4 linked regions of the Homo sapiens genome follow. The protein of the gene in region 1 purifies or fractionates together with the protein of each later gene. This does not show direct contact. Each region holds a gene or a part of one and is shown on either strand. Other genes may lie near its edges. The genes, in order: P2RX1, GLB1L2, OMA1 and PRMT9.

What was found.
Region 2: the proteins of P2RX1 (region 1) and GLB1L2 purify together in Homo sapiens (affinity purification with mass spectrometry; 2 studies listed by BioGRID and IntAct, with this or other methods). This does not show direct contact.
Region 3: the proteins of P2RX1 (region 1) and OMA1 purify together in Homo sapiens (affinity purification with mass spectrometry; 2 studies listed by BioGRID and IntAct, with this or other methods). This does not show direct contact.
Region 4: the proteins of P2RX1 (region 1) and PRMT9 purify together in Homo sapiens (affinity purification with mass spectrometry; 2 studies listed by BioGRID and IntAct, with this or other methods). This does not show direct contact.

The regions. Positions count from the first base shown.
Region 1 is NC_000017.11:3,906,450-3,913,480, reverse strand, and holds part of P2RX1 (P2X purinoceptor 1), read left to right. Parts: intron 1-7,031.
Region 2 is NC_000011.10:134,362,980-134,370,010, forward strand, and holds part of GLB1L2 (beta-galactosidase-1-like protein 2 isoform b precursor), read left to right. Parts: intron 1-1,348; coding exon 1,349-1,419; intron 1,420-4,277; coding exon 4,278-4,362; intron 4,363-5,664; coding exon 5,665-5,802; intron 5,803-6,825; coding exon 6,826-6,906; intron 6,907-7,031.
Region 3 is NC_000001.11:58,543,727-58,551,527, reverse strand, and holds the start of OMA1 (metalloendopeptidase OMA1, mitochondrial precursor), read left to right. Parts: upstream 1-4,801; 5' UTR 4,802-4,825; intron 4,826-7,801. UniProt on the Homo sapiens protein: Metalloprotease that is part of the quality control system in the inner membrane of mitochondria. Activated in response to various mitochondrial stress, leading to the proteolytic cleavage of target proteins, such as OPA1, UQCC3 and DELE1.
Region 4 is NC_000004.12:147,681,160-147,688,027, reverse strand, and holds the start of PRMT9 (protein arginine N-methyltransferase 9), read left to right. Parts: upstream 1-3,864; 5' UTR 3,865-4,040; coding exon 4,041-4,229; intron 4,230-6,868. UniProt on the Homo sapiens protein: Arginine methyltransferase that can both catalyze the formation of omega-N monomethylarginine (MMA) and symmetrical dimethylarginine (sDMA). Specifically mediates the symmetrical dimethylation of SF3B2.

The sequences.
Region 1 (7,031 bases):
AGAAGGCTGAGCTGAGCTGACCCTCTCAGATCCAGTTAAGATGGTCTCAGTTAAGGCTGGGCACAGTGGCTCATGCCTGTCATCCCAACACTTTGGGAGGCTGAGGTGGGAGGATCACCTGAGGTCAGGAGTTTGAGATCAGCCTGGCCAACATGGTGAAACCCCGTCTCTACTAAAAATAGAAAAAATTAGCTGGGTGTGGTGGTGCACGCCTGTAATCCCAGCTACTTGGGAGGCTGAGGCAGCAGAATCACTTGAACCCTGGAGGCAGAGTGGAGCTGAGATTGCCCCATTGCACTCCAGCCTGAGTGACAGAGTGAGACTCCATCTCAAAAAAAAAAAAAAAAAGATGGTCTCAGTTAGAGCTCTCCCCGAAGAGCTGATGAGCTCTCTGTCCCTGGTGGTGTACAGGCAGTGGGGAGGAAGCCAGGGAGGCCTTCCTGGAGGAGGTGACACACTGATGGAACCAGCCATAAGCAAAGACCTGGGGGCTGTGGGCTGGGCTGGCCTGCTCTCAGCTTTCTCTCCAGTCCCTCTGGGTCTCTTCTCAACTAAGTCCTCACTCATCCCCTGCGCCTCCACACAGACCTCTTGAAATCACATGTTCTGAGATCTCCAAGTGGAGATCAGAGTGCACCAATCAGGGAGAAGGATGGATAGAAATTATTGGGGGGAGAAACACATCCAGGGACCGTTTCTGCAGCATCTTCTCCATGCCTGGTGCTGTGCCGGGGAACAGAGGTGGGACATGGAATGGAGAGAGGGAGAGGGAGGAACTGAGGGTGAATTAGCCAGACTCCTTTGGTTCCTGTGAGAAAAGTCTAATCAAACAGATTTAAAAGGAAGGGTGGGCCGGGTGCGTTGGCTCACGCCTGTAATCCCAGCACTCTGGGAGGCTAAGGCGGGTGGATCACTTGAGGTCAGGAGTTTGAGACCAGCCTAGCCAACATGGTGAAAACCCATCTCTACTAAAAATACAAAAATTAGCTGGGTGTGGTGGCGCACGCCTGTAATCCCAGCTACTCGGGAGGCTGAAGCAGGAGAATCGATTGAACTTGGGGGGCGGAGATGGCAGTGAGCCGAGATCGCACCACTGCACTCCAGCCTGGGCAACAGGGTGAGACTCCGTCTCAAAAAAAAAAATAAAAAAACAAACAAATAAATGAATATATAAATAAAAGGAAAGGTGGGGGTATCCGGTGGTTTATGTAACTGAAAAATCAGTGTGGGTTTCAGGCCCGGCTGGATCCTCCAGGATGAAGACACAGGAGGAGTAAGGTTTAGAGGGGAGAGGGGATGAGGAATTCCTGCGGGTCCAGTCTTGGTTCTCAAAAGAAGCTGCCCATGACCTATCTCCCTTTCCTGGCTCTTCTTTCCTCTGTGGAGGCTTCATTCTCAGGCAAGTTCTCTGTCTTCACAGTGGTGAAACGGCCACCAGCAGCTCCAAGCTAACATCTCACCAGTTTAGCCACTCCCGAGGCACAAGAGTGGCTCCTTCTCCAGAGCTCCAGCAAAAGTCTCAGGTTCAATTCTTATTGGCCGGGGTCGGGTCCCGTGCCCACCCCAGAACCAATCAATCATTGCAGTCAAGGAAACGGAATGCCCTGATTGGAGGAGCCTGGTTGCGTGCCCACCCTTCCAGGCTCTCCTGTCGGGACACAGTGTGAACCAAGGTCTTGGGGCCGGAGAGGAATAGAGAAGGTGTCACTGGGACTAGGCTGAAGGGGCCATAAAAGGAGCCCAAGGGAGAGGCTGTGAAAGGGAGAGCAGGGGCGATGGCGAAGGCCTTTGAACACCAGGCTGAGGCGCCCGGATTTCTTCTGCAGGCAGAAGGGAGCCAAGACAGGATGTCTAGCAGGGGAGGGCCTGGAGCAGGCAGGGGTGGGCGTGGGGACCGGAGGCAGGACAGCTGTGAAGAGGCCGCAGGGATGGGAAGGGGGGACGGGGCGGGACCCAAGGCAGAGGCAGTGAGCACGGGTGACAGATGTCGTCACCCCGGCAGGCCTCACGCCTGGGGCGGCCCCTGCTCAGCTTCTGCCCATTGTTGCCGCAGCACGTAACACCTGGCACAGCCAGAGCTTCCGACGTCTCAAGAGAAGTGGGAAGTGAGATTTATGCATGAAAGAAACCGCTTGGTTTTTAGAGATTGGTGACGTATTCAAAAAAAAAGAAAGAAAGAAAGAAAGAAAAACAGACCGGGTGCCATGGTGCACGCCTGTAAACCCAGCACTTTGGGAGGCCAAAGTGAGCGGATCACTTCAGCTCAGGGGTCCAAGACCAGCCTGGCCAACACAGTGAGGCCCTGTATCTAAAAAAAAAAAAAAAAATTACCCAGGTGTGGTGGCGCGTGCCTGTAGTCAGTCCCAGCTACTCAGGAGGCTGAGGTGGGAGGATCACCTGAGCCTGGAAAGTTGAGGCTGCAGTGAGCCACGACTGCACCAGTGCACTCCAGCCTGGAGGACAGAGTGACACCCTGTCTCAAAAATAAATAAAGAACAATAAAAATAAAATAATTAAAAACACAAATGGTTGGCCTGAGATTCAATTCCACATTCAGTTAGTCATTCAACACACAGTGTTTGTTGAGTTCCTATTATGTGCCAAGCACTATTCTAGACACTAAAAATACAGAAGTGAACAAAACAAACCAAGATCCTGCACTCAAGGAACTTAACCCAGATGCCCCTCGACTTGTCTGCGGGTTGCATGGGGGCCTCAGGGTGGGCCCCAGTTCTGAGCACATTCCCTCCCAGGCCTGGAGTCTGCTCATGCCCCTCCCCAAGGCTGCTGCTCCCTGACAGCACACGCCCCATCTGGTCAACTCCTGCCTGTGGCCCATGGCCATACCCTGTGTCCCACCAGCCACCTGGCCGGTCCTCCCAACCCATGCCAGAGCTGCCCCCGCACCTGTCCCAGCTCCTCCAGTGTCTCAGCCTTCCCAAAACCAGCCCTTCTGGGTCCTTAGATGAAAGCCGAGGGAGGACCAGAAGGACTGGGGGATCCAATGAATGTGGGGGCATGATGGGGAGGGTGGCTGTGAGGATGCTGCCTGGGTGTTGAGCCTGGGTGATAGGGTGAGGACAGCACCATTCTCCATGACGAGGACACAGGGGAACAAGTTCTAAAGGGAGATGAAGAGTTCAGGTTGATCCAATTGAATTTCTGTCTGTATAGTGGTTAGTGCTTGGCACGAAATAGATTTCGTAGGCCGGGCACAGTGGCTCATGCCTGTAATCCCAGCACTTTGGGAGGCAGAGGTGGGTGGATCACCTGAGGTCAGGAGTTCAAGACCAGCCTGGCCAACATGGTGAAGCCCCGTCTATACTAAAAATACAAAAATTAGCCAGGCGTGTTGGTGTGCGCCTGTAATCCCAGCTCCTCAGGAGGCTGAGGCAGGAAAATCGCTTGAATCCGGGAGGCAGAGGTTGCAGTGAGCCTAGATCGCCTCATTGCACTCCAGTCTGGGGGACAGAGCGAGACTCCGTCTCAAAAAAAAAAAAAAAAAAAAAAGAATTTATCAGGACATCACCACATTGTAAATTGAGGAGCATCTGGACTTAGCGTGGTTTGACTTAGGATTTTTTGACTTTATGGTGGGTTTATTGGGGGTATTAAGAGCCTTTTGACTCAGGATGGGTTTATCAGGTTATAGCCCCATCGTCATTTGAGGAGCATCTGTGTAAGACCCTTGGGTGCGAGATTTTTGTTTGTTTTGTTCACTTTTGTGTTTGTTTTGTTCAACAGTGTTTGGCGCATGAATAGGGGCTGGATAAATACGTGTTTGTTTTTGTTTTTTAGTAGAGACAGCGTGTTACTATGTTGCCCAGGCTGGTCTCTAACTCCTGGCCTCAGGTGATCCTCCCCTCTCAGCCTCCCAAAGTGCTAGAATTGCAGGCCTGAGCCACCACACCCGGCTCATGTTTGTTGAATGATTGAATGTGTGGAATTGAATCTCAGGGGAGAGTGCAGTCTGGAGATAGAATTCTGGGGACACAGCGTGTCTGAGGCAGCTCACTCAGGGAATGGGGGCGGATCAACATTGAAAGAGGAATTTGTGAAGGAGGAACGGAGAACAGTGAAAATGGGAGGTTTTCATTATATGTGCCCACTGAGTGCCAGGCACTGTGCTAATTTCCTTAAGAACTCATAGAGGCCGGGCGCGGTGGCTCCCGCCTGTAATCCCAGCACCTTGGGAGGCCGAGGCGGGCGGATCACGAGGTCAGGAGTTCCAGACCAGCCTGACCAACATGGCGAAACCCTCTCTCTACTAAAAATAAAAAAAATTAGCCGGGCGTGGTGGGGCGCGCCCGTAGTCCCAGCTACTCGGGAGGTTGAGGTGGGAGAATTGCTTGAACCCGGGAGGTGGAGGTTGCAGTGAGCCAAGATCGTGCCACCGCACTCCAGCCTGGGCAACAGACTGAGACTCCATCTCAAAAAAAAAAGAACTCATAGAAGCTTCCCCCAAACACTTACCTAGATGCTTCTGTCTCCTGGGGCCCAGGCTGAGTTTGTAGCAGAGCCTCACTAAACACTTAATGAATAAGCAGCGCCTTTGAGGTAGGTGGCGTCACCTCTGTTTTATTGAGAAAACCAGGGCTCAGAGAGGTGTAGTCTCTAGCCTGAAGCCACACAGCTGGGGAGCAGCAGGGCTGGCACCTGACCCTCAGCCACTCCACCCTGTGGCCTCTTCCTTGAGAAGGCCATTGGAGAGCCCCAGGATGGGGGATTGCTGATGACGAGGTAGAAAGCATGGTGAGGGTTATTTCTGGAAGGGGAGAGGCTTCTGAAGATGCCTGTGTCTGACATCAGGCCCTCTTGGTTGTCTTCCCAGGGTGGTGACAATAAGGCCAGATCAAGGCATGGCTTTGGAGGAGCAGGCCTGGCACCATAGTCATTCTATTATTATTTTTTGTTTTTTTGAGACGGAGTCTCACTCTTGTCGCCTAGGCTGGGGTGCAGAGTGCAATCTTGGCTCACTGCAACCTCCGCCTCTGAGGTTCAAGTGAGTCTCTGCCTCAGCCTCCCAAGTAGCGGGATTACAGGTGCCCGCCACCACCATGCCCGGCTAGTTTTTGTATTTTTAGTAGAGTTGGGGTTTCACCATGTTGGCCAAGCTGGTCTTGAACTCCTGACCTCAGGTGATCCACCTGCCTTGGCCTCCCAAAGTGCTGAGATTACAGGCATGAGCCACCGCGCCCAGCCCATAGTCATTCTATTATCACCAGAGTTGAGGTCATGAATGCCAGATCTGACCGACCTTTCCCTTCGACCTCAAGACCGGCAGCTCCAAGGTGCATCAGCCCCGGCTTGTGGGCTCCAGGTGGCTCTGTTTCCCCTCTGTGCTCTGCCTCCTGGGAGACACGTCGAAGCCAGTGTTGCTCAGTGGAGGTGGGCTGAGTCCTGGGCTGGGTGCCTCAAGCATGGGGACACTTGAGACCGCCACTCCTGCAGGCCTCAGCTTCCCTGTCTCTTGGGAAAAGGTAGAAAGTTCGTTTTGGGCAAAGATAGAAACGTTGCTAAGCTGTTGGGGCTGAAGGTGCCGAGAGGGAGGTCAGTGGCCTGTCCTGCAGAGGGGCCCAGGACAAGGAGAAACTCCTCCTCCCCCCTGCATCAGCTCCTTCTGGCTTGGACACAGAACCAGAGGCCCTCCTGGAGGAAGGGGCCCAAGGAGGCCAGTGGGGGGATGGGCAATGCTCTTGCTCTCCCTGATGGGGCTGGAGGCAGCGTGACAGACTCAGGACACTGAGGATCAGAGGCCTTTGTCATGCCTCCACCTGTTGCTATCTGGGACCTGCAGGGGACAGCAGTGACCAAGCTTAGGCTTCGGGAGCATGTGACTTGGCCCCAGTGCCAAGGTGAGAGGGGGCTTAGAGAAGAGGTGGGTGGGCCATGAGAAGAAAGAAGAGGACATTGGTGGGTGGCCTCCCTGGGGCCTGCAGCAGGGAGAGAGGTGACTCTGGGACTAAGAGGCCTGGAGAGTTCTGTTACCAGATCTGAGCCCTGGGGGAAGGAGCAGGGAGTCCATTGCTTTGAGCTCCCCTTGGACAGGTGAGCTCGGGGTAGGGTAAGGAGTGGAGGGGGATGATACATCTGGCCACAGGTGCACTCACAGATTTGCCCTGCAGGTATACAGCCACACACCCCATACCCCAACACACACACACACACACACACACACACACACACACACGTTACCCTGAATCTCCAAAAAGAGTCTTTCCTCGAGGAAGGGGCCACAGCCTGGAGAGGAGTGTTATCCAGGACTATTTCATTTGCAAGCAACAGAAACCAAATCCGAACTGGCTTAAACAAAGGAAGGACATTTATTGGTTTACGTAACTGAAAAGTCCAGAAGTAGATTTTTCAACTGTGCTTCAGGTATGGCTGAATCCAGGTGCTCAAACAACATTGTCAGGATTCTGCCCCTCTCTATCTCCTGGCCTGGCTTTCCTCTAGGAGAGCTTCATTGTCAGGATTGCTCTCTCCAGAAGGTGGCAAAGATGACTACCATAGTTTTCGTCTTGCAGCCACCCTGCTTAGCCACTCAATAGACAGGATGTTTCTTTCCTGGCAATTCCCAGAAAAGTCCTGGCCTCATTGCTGAAACTCCTCAGGTCATGTGCGTGTCCTTAGACCCGTCACTGTTACTAGGGGGATGGAACATTGATTGGCAAGCCTTGGTTATCTGCCCAACTCCTGGGGCTAAGAGGGAGGTTAGCCTCATGGAACCTTCCAGACTGAAAGTGGAGAATCCAAAGGAACGGGACAGCTCAATGCTGGGAAGGCAAGGCCAGAATTTCCCAAGAAAACTGGAAGACCTCCCGACTGAGCCACTCCCACAGTGCCTCGACCGAGGGGCTGGACGCTGCAAGCCCTCCAGAGGACCACCTCCCTGCTCTGTTTTCCTCGCTGTCTCCCAGGGGGTCCCAGCATGGCTGGATCATAATAACAACTAATGTCTATACTGCATTTATTCTGTGCCATCCCCATTCTGAGTGTTTCTACATGTATGAACTCACTCACTTGATCAC
Region 2 (7,031 bases), on another chromosome or scaffold:
TGGCCGTCTACCTGTCCACTCTCCGCTTGTATTTGTGAGACGTATCAGGAAGGACAGGACAGAGATGCTTGTGTTCACTTAGCCCTGTGCATCCTGCGGACTTTGAGTTCAGCCTGCTCAGTTTCAGACTGGCCTCCTGTCTTCAAAGGGCTTCTGGCTTGAGGGGAGGGGTCTGGGTGGAGGGTCCCACCCAGTGGGCTGCTGGAGGGCAGGGACAGGGCAGAGCTATGGTATGGTGTCAGGGAGACCCAGGTGTGCAGTCCCGCTCTGCCGCTACCTGAGGCCAATTATTGTGACCTAGAGGCAAGTTATTTCACTTCCCCGGAGCCCCAGCTGTCGCTTGCGTTCCTTCACTGGCAATCAGAGGCTTTCGTCCTGCAGCAGAGCATCAGGGTGGCCTGGCTTGCCAGGCTGGCTCAGCCTCTCTGGTGTGTGCCTAGGCTGTGCCTGTGAACTGACTGTTAGGCAGATAGCAGGCAGGTGAGGGGCCCCAGGATAAGGCTGTGCCACTGGGGTGGGCGTGGGCATGCCCGGGTGTCAGCCAAACAGAGCGCACCTTTCTTGAGCATATGTTTCACTGATAGAAAGCCACTGAAAATAGCATTTTAAATTTTAAACGGAACATGTTATGGGGTAGAATACAGAATTAGCCCTTATCAAGAAATCAGAGAGGAATCTTTGTTTACATCATTACCTTGGACCGGATGCTTGGGGTGCCAAGGAAGGATCAGGCTCTGGTTCGTACAAAAGAACAAGGAACAGAGTGCATGCTCGGCTTGTAGAAGTCACAGTTGATTGAGATCAGGTGCACAGCGAGTGACTGCCTCTCAGCTCTGTGCTGCTGTGGCGGAGTCTCCAAGACAACAAGATAAGTCTCCTGGCGTCCTGGCTGACTTATTTATTTATTTATTTTTGTGAGACACAGTCTCACTCTGTCACCCAGGCTAGGGTGCAATGGCACAATCTCAGTTCACTGCAACTTCTGCCTCTTGGGTTCAAGTGATCCTCCCACCTCAGCCTCCCAAGTAGTTGGGATTACAGGCATGCACCACCAACCCTGGCTAATTTTTTTGTGTATTTTAGTAGAGAGGGGGTTTCACCATGCTGGCCAGGCTGGTCTCGAACTCCTGGCCTCAAGTGATCCACCTGCCTTAGCCTCCCAAAGTGTTGGGGTTACAGGTGTGAGCCACCGCGCCTGACTGTGGCTGACTTCTAACTGGAGGTGGGAAACGGTGTCAGGGCCGCTTACTTTATTGTGCTGGTGGATTGAGAAGGGTCTGGGGTCACCTAGAAGGTCCCTGGCTTTGAGACAGTGCTTTGTCTCTCTCTCTCCTCTTCCCTTTAACAGTCTTGGCCACCATCAACTTGCAGTCAACACACGAGCTGCAGCTACTGACCACCTTTCTCTTCAACGTCCAGGTAAGTCCAGCCCCAGGGAAGCTGCGGCCCGCCCTGCTCAGCGGCCTATGGGAATTCTGAATGCCTGTCAGCGTGCTCAGCTTCCCCAGCGCAGGGAGCTGGACTCAGGGCTGATGGCCTCTGGCCCCCCGCCCATGCCACTGTGTGCCTGCAAGGCCCGCTGCCCAGAAACACCTCTGAGGGCTGCTGTGTAGGCTGATGCAGTGTGGACATCACCCACTGCCCTGAGAGAGGGGCCCTTTTGGTGCACTCCTAGAGGACTCGACTTTTGTGGCCTCAACTAGCTCCAGACTTGCTCCCAGGGATTGAGGGGGGAAGGAAAAACTTCCCTGTCCTATACTACACAGGCATCCGACCTTAACCTGTGAGGCCCCTGCAATCCTAGAAAGATTATTGTCATCAGCAAGGCAGAAAGCCTGGTCCACTCCAGGTGCGGAGAGAGGGAGGAGTTTCCAGATGTCCCTCAATATCTGTCAGACTGATGGGCATTTATGCCACCCTGTAGTTCTGACTGGCCTCTTTCTCGAGCTCGCGTGCCCCTCCGAAGCAGGTGGATGGACAGGGCCATGCTGCAGCCCTCTGCAGACCTGAGAGGCCCCAGCTGTCCCCTGGCTCACTGAGGGGCGTGGATGCTCCAGACTGCCCCCACGCTGCATCGTCACACTGGTCCTGGGCCTGGAGTGGAGTTGTGCTTGGATGGACAGGCATGGATGGCTGTGGAGACGCTGGGCTGCTTTCCATTCCGGCTGATGGCCTTTCAGAGCAGGGGCTGTGTCCTCAGGCACATCTGCGTGGAGCCACCACAGCCGTGTGGGGCCGTGTGTGTGTTTGATGTGGCTTCTCCTGGAGTTCAGCTGCCAGAGTAGGCGAGGAGGCTCCCAGGAGGAGGTGGGAGGGCTGGCCCCGCTCCCAGGCAGGCTCCTGTGACGCAGATCAGGCGCGATCCAGCTGGGTCTCTGCCTTCCTTTCTTGGCATTTCCTGAGTGCCTGCCCATGTGTGCAGTGGAGTGGGGGGTGCCTCTCATACTTGTGACTGAGATGACAGGGTCTCCTGCCCTGTGCTGTGTGACCTTGGGCAAGTTACTTAACCTCTCTGTGCGTCTCTCTTCTTCTAAGTGGGGATGATGAGAGTACATTTCCTTATGGTGTCAACTCACAGGGTTGTTTGAAGATTAAATGAGGTAATATTTGGAAAGTGCCTAGCACAGCAGCTGATACAGCAGAATGCCTTATGTTTAGCCTTCAAGGTCATCCTTAGAGGGGTAGCCACGCGCGAGCCTTCCCAGGCCAGCTGTCCTGCTAACAGAATGGCCCTGCTGAAGGGCTTTATGTGCGCAGTCCAGAGATGTCTGTTTTCCTGAAGGAAGGGGACTTGGACACCTCCCTGTTTAAATCAAGGGCTCTCTGAATGCACAGCACAGGCCTCCAGGTGTGCTCCATGTGGCGATGTCCGATAGCACCTCACTCGTCCTCTGTGTCCATGACCCGTGATGGACAGAACTATGCAAGTGTTTCTTGAGCACCTCCTACCTGCCAGGAACAGTGTGCTAAGGGTGTTATGTGCACTCTCCCGTTTAATTCTCCCAATAGTCATATGAGCCAGTGAAGGAGACAGCTATAGAGTGTATAAGACACCCTGTAAGTAGTGGCTTGGGGACTGCAGAACAGTCTCACTACAGAGCTCCAGCTCTTAGCCAGTTGTGCAGTGCAGTGGCCTGGCCCATGGGTGGACACCCACCTCCGCAGCTCTGGTACCCTCAAGCCAACAACCTTGCTTCTGGCATGGGAGATTTCTGACTTGTGGGACTTTGAATCTGCTTCTCCCTTTTTAGTGATTTAAACGTGGTATGGTATGTCTCCTTCTTGGAAGGTAGGTGGCTTGTAAAGAAAACCAAGCCGCCAGTCTTGCTAGAAGAATTCTTGTAACTACTTTGGCTTTAACCCGGGTATGGCTGGTACCTTCTACTCAATGGACCGTGAGTTTGTCCCATCCCCCTGGATCAGATTTTGTTGCTGTGTATGCGGTATCCCTCTAAACATAAGGCTATCACTGACCTAGAGATACTTGACAAGCTGTCACTGAATAAGTGAGGAAGGCTCTCTCATGCAGAGCCTGAAATACTAGCGTGTTAGTCTTTACACCTCCCCCAGGTGCTCTGGGCTTCTGCAAACGTGGCAGAGTGGAGCATGGTCCCAGGAATGATCTTGGCCTCCTTGGGGCCGTCCTATGCCAAAGTCAGTATTCAGAAAGAAGATTTAAGATTTGTTGAGTGGCCCAGCCAAGGTATAAATCCAAACTGTCAGTGCAGAACCTGCACCATGAATAGCTGTGCTGTAAGGCCCTGATTTTCTGGTTCAGAAAATGCTGCAAACTGCTGTTTAAACTGAGTTGGACCTTGAAGAGGGCCCACTCTGCAGCGTCTGATTTTTCTGCTAATGGAGCCAGTACCCAGGGTGGGGGGGAGGGATCTGCATCCACAGTATCCCTCTCAGATATGGAGTTGTCCTGGGTAAAACATCCCCCTTCCCTGGAAGAGGACAGGCAAAGCTTGGCTTGATCCTGGACCAGTGTCTTCTTGCTAACACGTATGCAACATTAAAACCATCAGGGTTTGCCATATCGACTTTGGGAGCTTTATCTGCTCTATACCTGCAGGAGGCCACATGTGGCAGGAGAACTGGTGTGCAGGCGAATTTGGCCCTCACCTATGCCCCACCTCCAAAGACCTCTAAGGCAGTGGGTATGCAGACAGGGAAGAGTAGAGAGGGCAGAGATCCTGGGGCTCCCCTCCATGAAGAGCTTCCCTCTTTTTTGTCTGGCCAGCCTGCTTGTCTAACTCTCATTTTGTGGTGTCCAGGGGACTCAGCCCAAGATGGTGATGGAGTACTGGACGGGGTGGTTTGACTCGTGGGGAGGCCCTCACAATATCTTGGATTCTTCTGGTGAGTGCTTGCGGTGACTACATCCAGAATGTGTGCTACTTAAGAAGTGAGGATGAGTTTCAGTCACCTGCTAACTAATGTAAGCCATAGGGGGTGCAAGGCTGCTGGGATTATCTGTGTGCAGAAGTTGGCTTTGGATATTCCTGAGTCATTTGTCTTGACACTTGGATGAATGGGAGGGCTTTTAACATTGCTTGTTCGTGTTTTTGTAATTAGAAGGGTAATGCATGCCTATTGCAAACATCCAGAAAATACAGAAAAAGTATAGAGAAGAAATAAAATTCCCAGAGCACAGAGAAAACACTTAGCTGTTTACCACGCAGGCAGTTCTCTCTGTATCTCTGCCGACAGCTCTATACGCACACACAGATAGAGACAGATGCCATCACACTCCGCTGCATGTCACCTGCTTGTGCCAGTTAATGCACATACGGACAGCTTTCTGTATGACCAAATACAGATTTACATGACTGTTTTAAAGAATGTGAAGAGCCCCATTCTAAACCACACTTTGTGGACACAGTCTCCCGGGTTGTTTCTGGTGGTTCTGTTAAGCGCACGCCATCCCGGCGAGCATCCCGGTGAGCATCCCGGAGCCTGCGCTCTGCGCACCCGGCTTTCCCTGGGATGAGCGGCACAGGGGCTCCTCGGCACCGTGTAGATGTGCATGCTCGCCCCTCAGCCCCCGGAAAGACGGCAGCTTCAGCCGCTGCTGCTGAATGGGTGCACCCATTTCCCACAGATTCAGCAACACCGAGTATTAAAATAACTTTTAATATTTGTCTACTCAGTACATCATTGTTTAGTCTGCATTTCTTTGATTTATATTGATAAAATATATATTTATTAACCATTTGTTTTTCTCCTTTGCTATGATCTTGTTATGTCATGGTTCATTTCCTAACAAAGGTAGAATAGGAGGTGTCAGAGTTTTCTCTCTAAGGATGCATCCCATCTTTGTGCACTTGATACACCTGGTCAGGCAGACTCACATGGAGACTGTGCTGGCTGGAAGGCCCTGGCCGACCTGGGCTGCAGGTGGTCCACATGGAGCTCAGAGACTTGACCAGGATTGACAGACAACTGGAGGCTCGAGCTCTGGGGCCATGATTCTGGCCCACACTTCCTCCTCCACCCCTAATCTTCTGTGATTGGGGTTTTATGAGAGCTAGAAGGACAGAGTGACAAAGTTGGCCTTGAGGTTTTGAGGTGGGACTGGGAAAGAGGAGAGTAGTGAAGGGACCCCGGCTCATCTCAGACTTTAACTCACTCTGCACATCCCCTTTCTCCCTCCTCCGGCAGAGGTTTTGAAAACCGTGTCTGCCATTGTGGACGCCGGCTCCTCCATCAACCTCTACATGTTCCACGGAGGCACCAACTTTGGCTTCATGAATGGAGCCATGCACTTCCATGACTACAAGTCAGATGTCACCAGCTATGGCAAGTATTCATCAGCACTGCTCTCCCTGGTCTGCCCTGCATGGGCATGGCTGGGACTTGCTATGGAGAGGCCCTCAGGGTCAACTTCTGGCACCTTCGTGTCTTTGGCAATAGAGTACCTGGAGAAGGTACTTGCCTGGACAGTCATGTTACACTCCCAGAGGAGGGAAGCCTCAAGGGAGGTGGTGTGCCTGTGAGCTGGTCACTCTACAGAGAGGCCTCTTTGGCAAAGGTTGGCCTGAGGAAGTGGAAGGAGACCGCCCTAGGGGGACAGGGAGGGACGGTGGCCTCCCCTCCCTGCCCAGGCCCTTGAGGAGGTGTGATCCTGCCTCCTTTAGGTTGAGAGTCCCAGAAAGTAGAAATTACACCTGCAGCTAGAAATTTAGGGCCATGCTGTGATCATGGACAGTTTGTGTTTTTTTGAATTTGTGAGAGAGTTATCACTCTGACACCCAGGCTGGAGTGTAGTAGTGTGATCATAGCTCACTGCAGCCTCAAATACCTGGGCTCAAGTGATCCTCCTGCTTCGGCCTCCTGAGTAGCTGGGACTACAGGTGTGCACCCCCACCTCTGGCTAATTTTTAAAATTTTTTGTAGAGGTGGGGGTCTCGCTATGTTGCCCAGGCTGGTCTGGAACTCCTGGCCTCGAGCGATCCTCCTGCCTTGGCCTCCCAAAGTGCTGGGATTACAGGTGCGAGCTGCTGCACAAGCGATCCTCTTGCCTTGGCCTCCCAAAGTGCTGGGATTACAGGTGTGAGCCACTGCACAAGCGATCCTCCTGCCTTGGCCTCCCAAAGTGCTGGGATTGCAGGTGTGAGCCGCTGCACCTGGCCTTATGGACGCTTGTTGTAGTTGCCTGGTCTTTCATGTTTACAGTATTTTGACTGAATGGCTCAAAAGTGTCTTGCCTCCCCAATGGCTGAGATGAAGACCTGTGGCCCTTCCAAGCTTCTCCCTGTTCTTCGTGCTACATGTGCTGTGCTGGGGACAGGAATGACCATGACAGGGCCCGGTGTCTTGCAGACTATGATGCTGTGCTGACAGAAGCCGGCGATTACACGGCCAAGTACATGAAGCTTCGAGACTTCTTCGGCTCCATCTCAGGTACCCAGCAGACAGCAGACTCAAGTTCCAACTCAGGCCCTCGCTTCTGCTCTCAGACCCCTAAAGAGTTACTTCCTTACTGTCCCACCTCGACCCCAGTTGATCTGCGTGCAAGAATATCCTAG
Region 3 (7,801 bases), on another chromosome or scaffold:
GGAATCTGATCATGTGTCTCAGTCAGTTCAGGTTGCTACAACAAAGTACTGTAGACTGACTGGCTTCAGCAACAAACTATTTTTTCTTACAGTTTGGGAAGCTGAAAGTCTGAAATGAAGATGCCAGCATGGTTGGATTTTGTGAGGACCCTCTTCCTCGTGTACGAACAGCTGTCTTGTTTTATCCTCACGTGGCAGAGTGGGAGCTCTCTGATCCCTTTATCTCCTTACAGACTTGAATCTCATTCATGAGAGCTCCACCCCCATGACCTAATTACCTCCTAAAGGCCCCCATTTCCAAATACTGTTAATATTGGGAATTTAGGGGTCAACATATGAATTTCAGAGGGATACAAACATTCAGTCCATAGCACGTTGATTAAAAAATTGCTTAAAGGGCAGCACAAAGAAGATGTACAGCCAGAACAGAGGACTTATTCAAACTCTAAATCCTCCAGCAGCCGTGACCGGGAAAATGTGCCGCTCAGATCTGCTCTGGGGAGCATAGTTGACTGCCAGGCCCTGCCCCTGACCTTCTGGCTCCCCAACTCCATTTGTAACAAGCGCATGCTCCCCATAGACTGCTCTTAGCCAATGATCATGCATGGTGTGAACACTAGTGGATGCCCATCTCTGCAAAATATGGAACTCCTCTAAGCAGGCAATTTTGGCCTAAGGACTCCTCATTTTCAAAACCTTCTTAGAACTGTGCTACTACCTGAGGTGCTTCTAATCCAGTCTTTCTTCTTTCCCTCTCTCCTTTAACCAGTGTCATGATCTGAGGGCCCTTCCTGTCTATTCCTGCTCCTGCTCCATTATCCTTCCCAGGATTTTCCACGCAGTAAATATGTCTTGCACATCTGATTCCACCCTGGCATCTGCTTTTTAGAGGGCCTGTTGATACAGGTGGACTAGAAGTGGGGTGATCTGAGAAGAAGATGGTAAGATCGGCTCTGAGAGTGGCTCATTAATTGCCCAACTGGCTACAAGAACTCCATCTTGAGTGGAATGTGGGGTCTTGGATAGTGTCTGGCACAAGATAGTGGCCCCCGTGTGGATTTCAGTGATGGCGACCTGGGAAACTGGCCCAGTGGAGGGCAATGCCATTTAGGTGAGATAGTTAATGCACTTGAAAGATGGAGGGAGCAGTGTCTGAAAGAACAGTGCAGTGGGCTGGTTATTGCTACATTGTGTTGATGCCCTGCATGGGATAATGAGAAAGTGAGGGTCATTTGTAAACAGTTAAGGCTGAGTGGGAGTCAGAGGTCTCCTTGGTAGGTAACAGACAGGCTCTTATCACCTGCAGTGGAGGAGTGTGGACAGCAGAGGAGCAAAAGAGATTTTCATGAAAAGAGTTGTAGAGCCCCAGAGATGTTTAAACGCTTAGCCAAGGCAGGTCTGGGCCCTGGTTGGGAAAATCTGGAATCTTGAAGCATGAAATGGGACATCCTGATAGAATCCCTGAGGATACTGACTGCAGATCCTCAGAGCTTGCAGAGGTGGCTGACCCTTCCCTAGTCAAAGCTAACACTTCCCTTAAGTGGGAAGGCAGTGTTGAAGCCTCTAGCGTAAGGAATAAATAGGTGCCCACTCAGGACCTGCCCCATCTCCTCTTAGATATCTGCCAGGGTGATAACTCAGGTTAAATTCCAGCATCACCCAGCTGCCTGTGTGTTGGGCCTGTAAAGGTGTGGGGAGGAAGACTGCATAATGTAGGAGCTAAAGGAACTACCTAGCGTGTACCAGCAGGAGCCAGGAGAGGACCCCTGGAATGGGATTTCTGAAGGTGCTTGATCAAAGTGGGCAGGAACTGTGGCGGGATTGATAAGGAATCAGAGATACCAAGAGGTTGAGGAGGATTTATTATTTAGGTGCACCGGCCCAGTCGGATTAACATCCAAAGGACTGAGCCCCGAACAAAGAGTCAAGTTACCTTTTAAGCATTTTATGGGGTTGGGGGAGATCTGTGCAGGGAGAAGCATGTTACAGAAGCAAGAAACAAAGACAGTTATTTAATTAATTGAGGCATGCATTACATCATTTCTTACTTTTCAAGGAAAAACGTGTCTTAATGGCTTGAGTTTATCTGTCTAGTGACCTTGCAGCGCACAGCTAAAGAAACAGGGTCTTTACAATGCCTGGGAAAGGGAGAGATAAGGCTCACTAGCCACAGAAAAACAGGCAGTTAATATTTAAAGGACTCCAGCTCTTTCTCTTTCTCGGGGGGAGGTGGGTTTTCTTACATAGAACTGAGTTTCTGTTTACACATTCTTTAATTTCTTTTAATTCCTATTCCAGAACAAGCCTGGCTAAATAAAAATTCATTGTCTTGGGGGCACTTTCTTGGGACTTGGGACTGTAGAAGATGGGTAAACTCACTGCTAGGTGACTATTAGAAGCTGAGAGAAAGCCATAGTGCATGCAGAGTAAAGCAGGAATGCCCGAATTGCCCTTGCAAATGGTAGAAGGACAGAGGAGCTGAGGGAAGTGGACTTGCCTGAAAGAATTTTTTTTGTGTGTAGAGCCCGAAGGCAGACAGAGGGGAATGTTCCATGGGAGGCCCAGAGGATGCATCATATTCTATGGCCATGGGGAATGCACTGGCGTGAGGGGCACTAGCATCACTAAGAAGTTCAGAGAAGGCTCTCCTCTGGAGGGAAGGGCTGACGGTAGGAGAGGCAATCACAGGGCTGGGCTTGATAATATCCATTGGGATAACAGGATCCTGAAGTAGTAGAAGCCAGGTGGTGGCTTTAACCATGAGGACACCAGAAGATGTAATTACTGTAACATCTGCCAAGGGCAGAGGAGCAGCCAAGGGGGCTTGATCCACAGGAGGTTGTGGAGGGCTTTAATAGCATAAGGTCTCCCTAGGGGAAAAACAGACGGGCAGCCAACAAGAGTGTTGCCTAACATCTACAACTGGAGGAAGACAAGAAGCTATTTATCCTATGCAGGGAGTAGTTGCTTAATAAAAGGCACTGCTCATTGCTCAAGTCTCAGACCTGAGCCTATCTTCACACTGAGACCACAGAATCTGTTGACTTAAGAGGTTGTTGGGTCCCTATAAAGAAGAATCCTGCAATACTGAAACAAATATTTACTGTAATTAATGATTACTCTTTGGTCTGTGTCCCACGGCCATTTTCTTGACTGATTTTATGTTGAGGAAAGAGGAATACCCAGACATTTCACAGGTGTTACCCAAAGTATGTAACACACATGGCTCCTCTCTAAGTGTGGGGGCTTATGGGGATCAGGTAATAAGCAGAGTCCTGGATAATGTCCAGCTTACAGTGGGTCCAGGAATACACTGACCCATCCAGTAGTCATTTTCTTAGTTCCTGAGTGCATAATTGGGAGTACATATTGGGCAGCTGGAGCAATCTCCACATTGGTAAGAAGCTCAGGGTCCTTGGTCTTGAGTTATCATGGTGGGGAAAGCCAATGGGAAGCCTCTGAAGCTGTCCTTCTTTCCAAGTGAAGATAATAAATCAAAACCGATATTTCATCTGAGGGGATAGTGAGATGATGGTGGAGATTAATGTCATAATTAAAGACCTGAAATATACAAGAGTGGTTGGTCATCCCTGCCATATCTCTACTTAACTTGCCAGTCTGGCCCCTTTGGAAATCAGGTGGACCCAGGATAATGACATAATGGCTCTGCGCAGTCCAAAAGGAGCTGGATCAACTGGAAATTCCAGAGAACATCACACCCATCTATTTCACCAATGACATTATGCTAACCAGGCAAGATGAGCAAGAGGTGGCTAGCATGCTGGAAACTTTGGTAAGACATGTGCACTCCAGAGTTTGGGAGATAAACCCTACGAAGACTGAAGGACCTCCTACTTCAGTTTTTAGGGGTCCAGTTGTCAGGGGTTTTCCAGGATATCCCTTTCAAAGTAAAAGGCAAATCATAAAATACACATAAGATAAACGAAACAGTAACTTACACATTTTCCAAAAGAGATACCTAAAATTGTTCATAGTGTTTATGTCCTTTGACATAGTGTTTATGTCCTTTGAGATGTTTTCATTGTGCACAGAGTGTAAACATAATAAACTAATATGAGACCTCACTACTCATCCATCACAATCCAGTGTTTATTTGTACTGGCTTATTTGTACACTTTTATTTATTTGTGTTTATTTGTACACTTTTTTTTAATCGCCTGTCTTTCCTCACTGTGATATAAAGTTCACGAAATTCAGGTCTGTCTTGTTCACTGCTACATCCTTGGCACTTAAAATGTAGTTGATGCTCAAGAAATATGTTTTGGTGAAATGAATGAAACATACTATACACATAATTTTGGAGCCAGCTACTTTAACCTCCAGACACTTAAGATTATACTTCATCTTTCTTAAAATGCGTCCCTCCAAAAATCATATGAAAGCACTGTTCCCATACTCCAAAGACTATTTCTATGAATGCAGATTCAGAACCAGGAAGCCTTCGTCTTTTGGCAGTCTTCGAGTCTCTTCCCTTTTGGCCGGTACTGCCGTAGAGACTACAACGGACACAGCCTTGCGTGGATCATTCTTTAGAGGACCCAACTCACCAAAGACGGGAGAAAGTTGTTCCTAGGCAAGCAGCCCAGCCCAGGGCCATGTCCCGCCTTAAGCCACACGGAGGCGCTAGAGCGCCACAGTCTCCGCGGGGCCCGGGGCAGCTGGGAGAACGACTCTGGGCGGCTGTATTGACTGCCGGGTGTGGGCGGAGCGAAGGGCGCCCCGGCCGGTATGGCGGGCAGGAAGTGCGGGTGCGCGCCTGCGCATAGGTCGGGTCTGCGGTGTCACCGCTTTCGCTTCTGCTTGAGTCAGTCCTCACGGTGACGCTTTTCCCCAGCTTTTCCGAGTAGGATCGTGCCCAGGGGAGGAGGCAGAGTGCGGCAGTGGGGAGGGGGCGGAGCGCAGAGCGCCTGCGGGGGCGCCCGGGCAAGGAGTGGGGATCCTTGGGGATGGGGGTACGGGAGGAGGCGTGGGTGGGCGATAAGGCTGCGTGGAGGGGAGGGGCGGGGGGCGCCGGGGCGGGAGACGGAGGGGATCTGTCCTGGGGGAGCCCGGTTCTCCCCTAGCCTTGCCCGGGGCACGCCGGTGACCCCGTGTGTCTGCCCCGTGGCAGTACTTTCGTGGGCCGCCTGCCCTCCCCCTCAGCCCGCCCTTATCCGCGGCTCCGCTTTCAGAGCAGGGTTTCTCACCCGCGGGGCTTCGGGCTCCTCACCCGGCACCTCTGCCAGAGGGGACCGCCTCCCGGCGCGTCGGGCATTCGTCTCTTTCACCCCTTCCCTCTTCAGGAGAAACTGAACACGTTTTCCAGCCTAAACTCGGCAGGGCAAACCAGAACATTCCCCGTCTAAGCAGTTCCGGGGAGTTTTAACAATTTCCTCGTAAACTCGTCTACAGAACTCACTGTATACTGTTTAAATGTCGCCTGTGTGTGGAGCAACAGTTTTATTGTGCCGTGCAATCCTCAACAAGAAATTGTAGTCCAGGGAGATGAAAATCCCTTATTTGGCATTCAGGCGTTGATCAAGGTCGTGCAACCCTCGCTAAAAGGATTTAGGTTCATCTCCGTCATTCTCAGCCGGGGTGAAGGGGTGTAGTCTGACATTTGGAAGCTTAAGAACCAAGTCTGCTGCCGTCCAATTCTTTTTTAAAGCCTTCCATCATGTGTGTACTTTGCTTGAATGATTATTTTAAAGTACATGTCCTATTTTTGCCAATCTGACAGCTGTTTCCATAGAAACTAGAGAAGAAATAGTCATTTTCAGCAAGAGTTGTTAAAACTGTCTTCCAGGCTTCAGCTGTGAGTGCCAGTGAGTGCTGCACTTGCTCATTCGGAGATGGTACTTAAAGAATTAAGGATCTGAAATGTTCGTAGAGGCTAACAATCCAAATTGTTTAATTTTCTCACATCATTAATTTTGTTATCCTAGAAGTCTGCCAGCTATGTTTGTTGACCTGCCACAGCTCTTTGAAGAGAATATGTCAGCCCTGATTTTTTTTTTTCTTATGTGCTCTGTAGTCTAGTGATTGGCTCCTTGAAAATGCATGAATAGATTTCTTCCCTCATTCTTTACCCTTTCTTCAGGATAAACCGGGTATTACAAAATATCAGGCACTGTTTCTATTCAAAACGACACTTGGTTGTCAGTGATAGAAATGATAATGGTTTTAATTATATATGCGTAGTGTTGGGGCTTTTGCTTATACCTTCTGTGTCAATAGGATTCTTTTAAAATTTTTACACAAGTCATGAGAAATGAGAAGGAGTTTGCTTGTCATGTGCAGAGCTAAGCAGTGTGAATAGATGTGCATAGACATAGAGATGAGAGCTTTCTTTTTCTGTGGGGTGTAAGTAAATCAGGGAGTTTGGAATTTAGGAATGGGTGAAGGAGGGTTGGGGAAGGTGCCTGGAGAAGTAGTAGGAGGGCCTGGTTCGCCATATGAAGGAGTTTGTGGAAGCCATGGAAAACCAACGAAAGTCCAGGCGTGGTGGCTCATGACTGTAATCCCAACACTTCGCAGTGCAGTATGATCAGTTGAGCCCAGGAGTTAAAAACCAGCCTGGGCAACATAGTGACACACCGTGTCTACAGAAAAAAATTAAAAAATTAGCTGGGCTGGCCAGGTGCGGTGGCTCAGGCCTATAATCCCAACACTTTGGGAGACCGAGGTGAGCAGATCACTTGAGGCCAGGAGTTCGAGACTAGCCTGGGCAATTTGCCGAAACCCCGTCTCTACTAAAAATACAAAAATTAGCCAGATGTGGTAATGCATGCTTGTAATCCCAGCTACTGAGGAGACTGAGGCACGAGAATTGCTTGAACCCAAGAGGCGAGGTTGCAGTGAGCCGAGGTGGCACCACTGCACTCCAGCCTGGACAACGACAAAGTGAGACCCTGTCTCGAAAAGAAAAGAAAAACAATGGGAATTACAGAAATAGTTGCCTGAGTGGAGGTTTAAAAAAGTAATAATACATCCCGTAGAAATTTGAACTGCACAGAAATATATAAGGTGAAAATACTAATAATCCCTCTTAACCACCATCCTGCCATTCAAAATAATTGTGAATAGTTTGGTGTATCTTTTTTCAGATTTATTTTTGTATATACTAGCATATTTTCTCATTACTATTTTTGCAAATTGGGGAGGGTTTTTTAAAATCTGTTTTGTTCTCTGCAGTATCTCTAGCATCCATTATGGTGCCTAGCATTTAGTGGGCACTCATTAAACATTTTCAGAATGAATGAATAATAATACAGTTCAGAGGTCAAAAATACAAAATCTGAATGTTTGGTTAAGGTCGTTAAAATTTTTTAAGTTCATTGCCAACATTTAAAAATTGATAAATTTCACCTAAAATCTGAAATTCTGGCTTTACTTAAAAGTTTTGAATCATTTGGCCACAGCAAGTTCAAATTCCATCATAACTGTTTGCACCTCCTTTAGATGGTCATGAATCTGCATTCACATCAGTATCACTTTGCTGATATTCACTTGCCTGGACCCTACAAACCTGTACTGTGCGATACAGTAGACACTAGCCACATATGGCCATTTAACTGAGTTAAAAATTTCATTCCTCAGATGCACCAGTCACATTTCAAATGCTCAGTAGCCACATGTAGGGGCTACCTTATTGGACAGTGCAGACATGAACATTTTTATCATTGTAGAAAGGTCTGTTGTATGGTGCTTCTTTAGACGTTTGAGTTTGCCACCTCTGTTATACAGAAGTTTTTAGGTAGCATTTATTATTATTTTTAAATTTGTATATCCCTTTGCCAGA
Region 4 (6,868 bases), on another chromosome or scaffold:
GTGATGTTCCCCTTCCTGTGTCCAAGTGTTCTCATTGTTCAATTCCCACCTATGAGTGAGAACATGTGGTGTTTGGTTTTCTATCCTTGCAATAGTTTGCTCAGAATGATGGTTTCCAGCTTCATCCATGTCCCTACAAAGGACATGAGCTCATCCTTTTTTATGGCTGCATAGTATTCCATGGTGTATATGTGCCACATTTTTTCTTTTTTTTTTTTTTTTGAGACGAGTCTCGCTCTGTCACCCAGGCTGGAGTGCAGTGGCATGATCTCGGCTCACTGCAAGCTCCACCTCCCGGGTTCACACCATTCTCCTGCCTCAGCCTCCCAAGTAGCTGGGACTACAGGTGCCTGCCACCATGCCTGGCTAATTTTTTATACTTTTAGTAGAGACGGGGTTTCACCGTGTTAGCCAGGATGGTCTCGATCTCCTGACCTCGTGATCCGACTGCCTTGGCCTCCCAAAGTGCTGGGATTATAGGCGTGAGCCACCGTGCCCGGCCATGTGCCACATTTTCTTAATCCAATCTATCACTGATGGGCATTTGGGTTGGTTCCAAGTCTTTGCTATTGTGAATAGTGCCGCAATAAACATACGAGTGCATGTGTCTATAGCAGCATGATTTATAATCCTTTAGGTGTATACCCAGTAATGGGATGGCTGGGTCAAATGGTATTTCTAGTTCTAGATCCTTGAGGAATCACCACACTGTCTTCCACAATGGTTGAACTAGTTTACAGTCCCACCAACAGTGTAAAATTGTTCCTATTTCTCCACATCCTCTCCAGCACCTGTTGTTTCCTGACTTTTTAATGATCGCCATTCTAACTGGTGTGAGATGGTATCTCATTGTGGTTATGATTTGCATTTCTCTGATGGCCAGTGACAATGAGCATTTTTTCCTGTGTCTGTTGGCTGCACAAATGTCTTCTTTTGAGAAGTGTCTGTTCATAGCCTTCGCCCAATTTTTGATGGGGTTGTTTGATTTTTTCTTGTAAATTTGTTTAAGTTCTTTGTAGATTCTGGATATTAGCCCTTTGTCAGATGGGTAGATTGCAAAAATTTTCTCCCATTCTGTAGGTTGCCTGTTCACTCTGATGGTAGTTTCTTTTGCTATGCAGAAGCTCTTTAGTTTAATTAGATCCCATTTGTCAATTTTGGCTTTTGTTGCCATTGCTTTTGGTGTTTTAGTCATGATGTCCTTGCCCATGCCTATGTCCTGAATGGTATTGCCTAGGATTTCTTTTAGCGTTTTTATGGTTTTAGGTCTAACATTTAAGTCTTTAATCCATCTTCAATTAATTTTTGTATAAGGTGTAAGGAAGGGATCTAGTTTCAGCTTTCTACATATGGCTAGCCAGTTTGCCCAGCACCATTTATTAAATAGGGAATCCTTTCCCCATTTCTTGTTTTTGTCAGGTTTGTGAAAGATCAGATGGTTGTAGATGTGTGGTATTGTTTCTAATGGCTCTGTTCTGTACCATTGGTCTATATCTCTGTTTTGGTACCAGTACCTTGCTGTTTTGGTTACTATAGCCTTATAGTATAGTTTGAAGTCAGGTAGCATGATGCCTCCAGCTTTGTTCTTTTGGCTTAGGATTGTCGTGACAATGCGGGCTCTTTTTTGGTTCTATATGAACTTTAAAGTAGTTTTTTCAAATTCTGTGAAGAAAGTTATTGTTAGCTTGATGGGGATGGCACTGAATCTGTAAATTACCTTGGGCGGTGTGGCCATTTTCACGATATTGATTCTTCCTATCCATGAGCATGGAATGTTCTTCCATTTGTTTGTGTCCTCTCTTATTTCATTGAGCAGTGGTTTGTAATTCTCCTTGAAGAGGTCCTTCACGTCCCTTGTAAGTTGGATTCCTAGGTATTTTATTCTTTTTGAAGCAATTGTGAATGGGAATTCACTCATGATTTGGCTCTCTGTCTGTTATTGGTGTATAGAAATGCCTGTGATTTTTGCACATTGATTTTGTATCCTGACACTTTGCTGAAGTTGCTTATCAGCTTAAGGAGATTTTGGGCTGAGATGATGGGGTTTTCTAAATATACAATCATGTCATCTGCAAACAGGGACAATTTGACTTCCTCTTTTCCTAATTGAATACCCTTTATTTCTTTCTCCTGCCTGTTTGCCCTGGCCAGAACTTCCAACACTATGTTGAATAGGAGTGGTGAGAGAGGGCATCCCTGTCTTGTGCCAGTTTTCAAAGGGAATGCTTCCAGTTTTTGCCCATTCAGTATGATATTGGCTGTGGGTCTGTCATAAATAGCTCTTATTATTTTGAGATACATCCCATCAATACCTAATTTATTGAGAGTTTTTAGCATGAAAGGCTGTTGCCAATTCCAGTTTCTTAAGGTGACCAGATGTTCCATGTTATTTGTGTCATTCCATTTTTTCAAATGACCTATTCTATGTACAGAAAATCTTGAAGTTATAGATAAACCACGAAAAAATGCAAATAATTGGCCTGGTGCAGTGGCTCATGCCTGTAATCCCAGCACTTTGGGGGGCTGAGGCGGGCGGATCACCTGAGGTCAGGAGCTTGAGACCAGCCTGACCAACATGGAGAAACCCTGTCTCTACTAAAAAGACAAAATTACCCGGGCGTGGTGGTGCATGCCTGTAATCCCAGCTACTCGGAAGGCTGAGGCAGGAGAATCGCTTGAACTTGGGAGGTAGAGGTTGCAGTGAGCCGAGATCGCACCACTGCACTCCAGCCTGGCGACAGAGTGAGGCTCTGTCTCAAAAAAAAAAAAAAAAAAAAAAAAAAAAAAAAGAAAAAAAAGAAAAGAAAGAAAAGAAAGAAGAAAAAATCAAAGTCCTTACTTTGCATCATAATCCGCTAGGTGCAAAGGTCACAAAAGTGATTAAGAATAGCTCACAATGTAGTGAGCTGGAACCTGAAAAACGGATTAGGATTTACACAGGCGAGTGCTCAGAAAAAAGGGTAGTTCAGATAATTGGATCAGAAGAGAAGGCAAAAATGCATGACGTGTTTTTGAGAATTAGAGGAGCCCTCAAAATGTATTAGTGTGATATGCAAAATGCTCGATTTAAGATATTATCCATTAATGAATTTGAAAATGGGGACAAAAATAACTTTTCAGCCGTAATAACTATGCTCCCCTCCCTTTGAGTTTCGAATCTGTATCTTAGAGGCCACACTTGAATGTGGAAAAACTTTGTATTAATGTAAACACTATACAGTGATAAGACACGAACAGTGAAATAACCCCTAAGCTCATCTTATAACTGAACAGATAGGTGGTCAGAGAACTTGGATTTGAACCATGCCTATGCCACTAGCTGGTTGTGTGACCTCCAGCAAGTCACTTCTCAAGATACCACGTTTGCCATCATTAAGACGAGTGTGATCCAAAGGTCCACCTAGCCAGGTTTTGTGAGAATGATTTGAAATGCCTGTGAAAGCATTTCCTCTACCACGTCTGAGATGCTTTTGTTATCTCCAGGTTCTTTCAGGTCTTGAAATTTTGTGCATCACGATCCAAAATGTCTTAAGCATCATCACAAATGCTTGACCGTCCCTCATGAGCGGGTGGCGCTTCGCGCTGCCTGGGTCTGTACAACAGGGTCTTGCAGTCGAAAGCCACACACTCCCGGAGTGCAAGAGGGAGAGAAAGCTCTGCTTTCAGCCGGGAAAAAAAAAGGGCGCAAGACCGGACAGGTCCTGCCACAGACGTTCTCCTATGCTCACGCACAGTGGTCGCTCCTGCGGGAATGGGCAGCAGTGACGTGCCCACGTCGGGCGCGCTGACGTTCGCGTAGCGTGCGCCGCTGGCCAGGTGCGCAATAGTGGGGTATGCGTCACGGTCTGCGCCGCCCGCGGGGCCAGGACGGGGCGGAGCTTCCGCCTGGGCTGGGGTTGGCGAGTTCACCCGCGGCGGAGGGTAACTTTGCTGTGCTGTTTTTTGAGCAGTTGTCTGGTCCCTGGAAGTGTAGCATCGAGAGAGTTTTCTAATTACGTTTACAAAATATCTTCCCTTTGGCCATACAAGTGGTGACTGCCATGTCGAACTCGCGGCCCAGGTCCCGCCGAGACGCCGGGGGTGGCGCTGGGGCAGCCGGCCGGGACGAGCTGGTGTCGCGGTCCTTGCAGAGCGCAGAGCACTGTCTGGGCGTCCAGGACTTCGGCACTGCCTATGCCCACTACCTCCTCGTGCTCAGCCTGGCGCCGGAGCTGAAACACGACGTGAAGGTGAGGGTCCTTTTTTCTCACTTGCTGGCAGATCCAACGTCCTCGTAAAAAAAAAAAAAAAAACAGAAAAAAAAAAAAGCGGAGGGGCTAGGGTGCCTGGGTGGGTGGTTGCTGTTAATATTTAGGGCCCTTTTTTCTCACTTGCTGGCCGATCCAACGTCCTCGTAAAAAAAAAGAAAAGAAAAAAGGCGGAGGGGCTAGGGTGCTTGGTTGGGTGTTTGCTATTAATGTTTACTGTTCAACCTTGACATCTTTCGTTTATTCACACCTACGACCAGCCCAGAGGAAAATCCTGCCGTCTTCACCTTCGAAATATGTCCAGAATCTTACCAGTTCTCACCATCTTCCCCTTTACTACCCTGGTTCGAGCTTCAGTCATCTGCCGGCTGTTGCAGTCGGCTCTCAACTGAGCTCTCTCCTGCAGTCTGTGTCAACATAGCTAGCTTTTTGCAACAAAAGTCAAATGTTGTCATTTCTCAGTTTCAAAACTTTCATCTCGTTTAAAATTTTAAAGGCCCTCGAATTGGAAATGAGGTCTCACGTGATCCTCTTCTCCTTATATCTAATTTAAGCATGCCCTGGCTTGAGGGCTTTTGGATTTGTTATATTGTGTGTAGTAGGAATATAGTGGGCCTCTAGTTGAATAAAGTGTGTAATTAGCCTAAAGTGATTATCATTTAATGATGCGTTCTTTAAACTTCAATTATTGGATTATTTGCAACAATTACTCTGTTGAAATGCTGTTCTTTTTTGAAGTACTTTTAGAATCTAAATTACGAAAAATGATTTAACTTAAAATTGCAATTACTTTGCTTCATTTAGACTGAGGGTTTGTCAACCTCAGCACTATTGACATTTTGAATGGGATAATTCTTTGTTATGGGGGAGGGGAGGTGTCCTGTGCATTGCAGTATGTTTGGCAGCATCCTTGATCTCTACCCACTAAATGTCAGTAGCGTCTAGATGTTTGTAGTTCATGTAAACTTAGTGTAAATTTCAGGACCAGCTGTCCTACTTGAGGAGGAGATGATATGTTGAGATACAGTTTGCTTCTCTTGGTAGGCAGCAATAGAAAAATGGATCAACTCAAGTGATCTTTCCTCAGTTACTTGTTTCTTAGTTTCCTCTTCTGTGAAACAGGGACGCAGCCTCTCTTAAAAATGTTTACTGGGTATTAAAAGTATATTTAGACTGGGTGTGCTGGCTCAGGCCTGTAATCCCAGCACTTTGGGAGGCGGAGGCGGGTGGATCACAAGGTCAGGAGTTTGAGACCAGCCTGGCCAATATGGTGAAAACCTGTCTCTACTAAAAATTAAAAAATTAGGCCGGGCGCGGTGGCTCACGCCTGTAATCCCAGCACTTTGGGAGGCAGAGACGGGTGGATCACCTGAGGTCAGTAGTTCGAGACCAGCCTCAACATGGAGAAACCCCGTCTCTACTAAAAGTACAAAATTAGCTGGGCGTGGTGGTGCATGCCTGTAATCACAGCTACTCGAGAGGCTGAGGCAGGAGAATTGCTTGAACCTGGGAGGCAGAGGTTGTGGTGAGCCGAGATCACGCCATTGCGCTCCAGCCTGGGCAACAAGAGCGAAACTCTGTCTCAGAAAAAAAAATAAAAATAAAAAATTAGCTGGGCGTGGTGGCATGTGCCTGTAGTCCCAGCTACTCAGGAGGCTGACGCAGAAGAATTGCTTGAACTCGGGAGGCGGAGGTTGCAGTAAGTCCAGATTGTGCCATTGCACTCCAGCCTGGGCGACAGTGTATGACTCCATCTCAAAAAGAAAAAATAAAAAAGTATATTTAAAATTTGTAGTGCAATGCCTGACATTCAGTAGGGTAAGCAACTAGTCTGTTTCCTGCCGAACAAAGTCTGTGTTTGTTTGTATGGGCCCCCTGTAAAATGCTCATTGCCTGCTACTCTATTCCCCATACCCAAACTCCGGCCACACCAAGCCACTTATCTGTAGACCCTCTGATCCATTTCATATAATCTGTGCGGGGTTTTTTTTTTTTTTATAGAGTCTCACTGTATCACGCAGGCTGGAATGCAGTGGTGCGATCTCGGTTCACTGCAACCTCCACCTCCTGGGTTCAAGCAATTCTCCTGCCTCAGCCTCCTGAGTAGCAGGGATTATAGGTGTTCGCCACCGTGCTTGGCTAATTTTTATATTTTTAGTAGAGATGGGGTTTCACCGTGTTGGCCATGCTGGTCTTCAACTCCTGACCTCAGGTGATCTGCCTGCCTTGGCCTCCCAAAGGGCTGGGATTACAGGCATGAGCCACCGTGCCCGGCCAGAATCTCCTTTCTTATCCTTGTCTCTCTAGTAAACTCCCTCAAGATTCAGTTCCAAATATCAACGCTTTTGTATAAAATATGTGAAGATGATTTAAAATGTTTTAATGACTAAAGCTTTCCCTCTTTCCACAGTATTGCAGCATGGAGAATGGATGGAGGGAGATGCAGTTGGAATTAGAGTGACAGCGTTAAGGCTGTTGCTGTAGTCCAGCAAGTGGTTACAAGGGCCAGATTAGGTTGTAACTGTGGGAATGGAGAGGAGGTAACAGATTTAAAGATATTGAGAGAGCATTGGCTAGGTTTGAAACAGTGTATGTGGAGTTAAGGTACCATTATAAGGTGA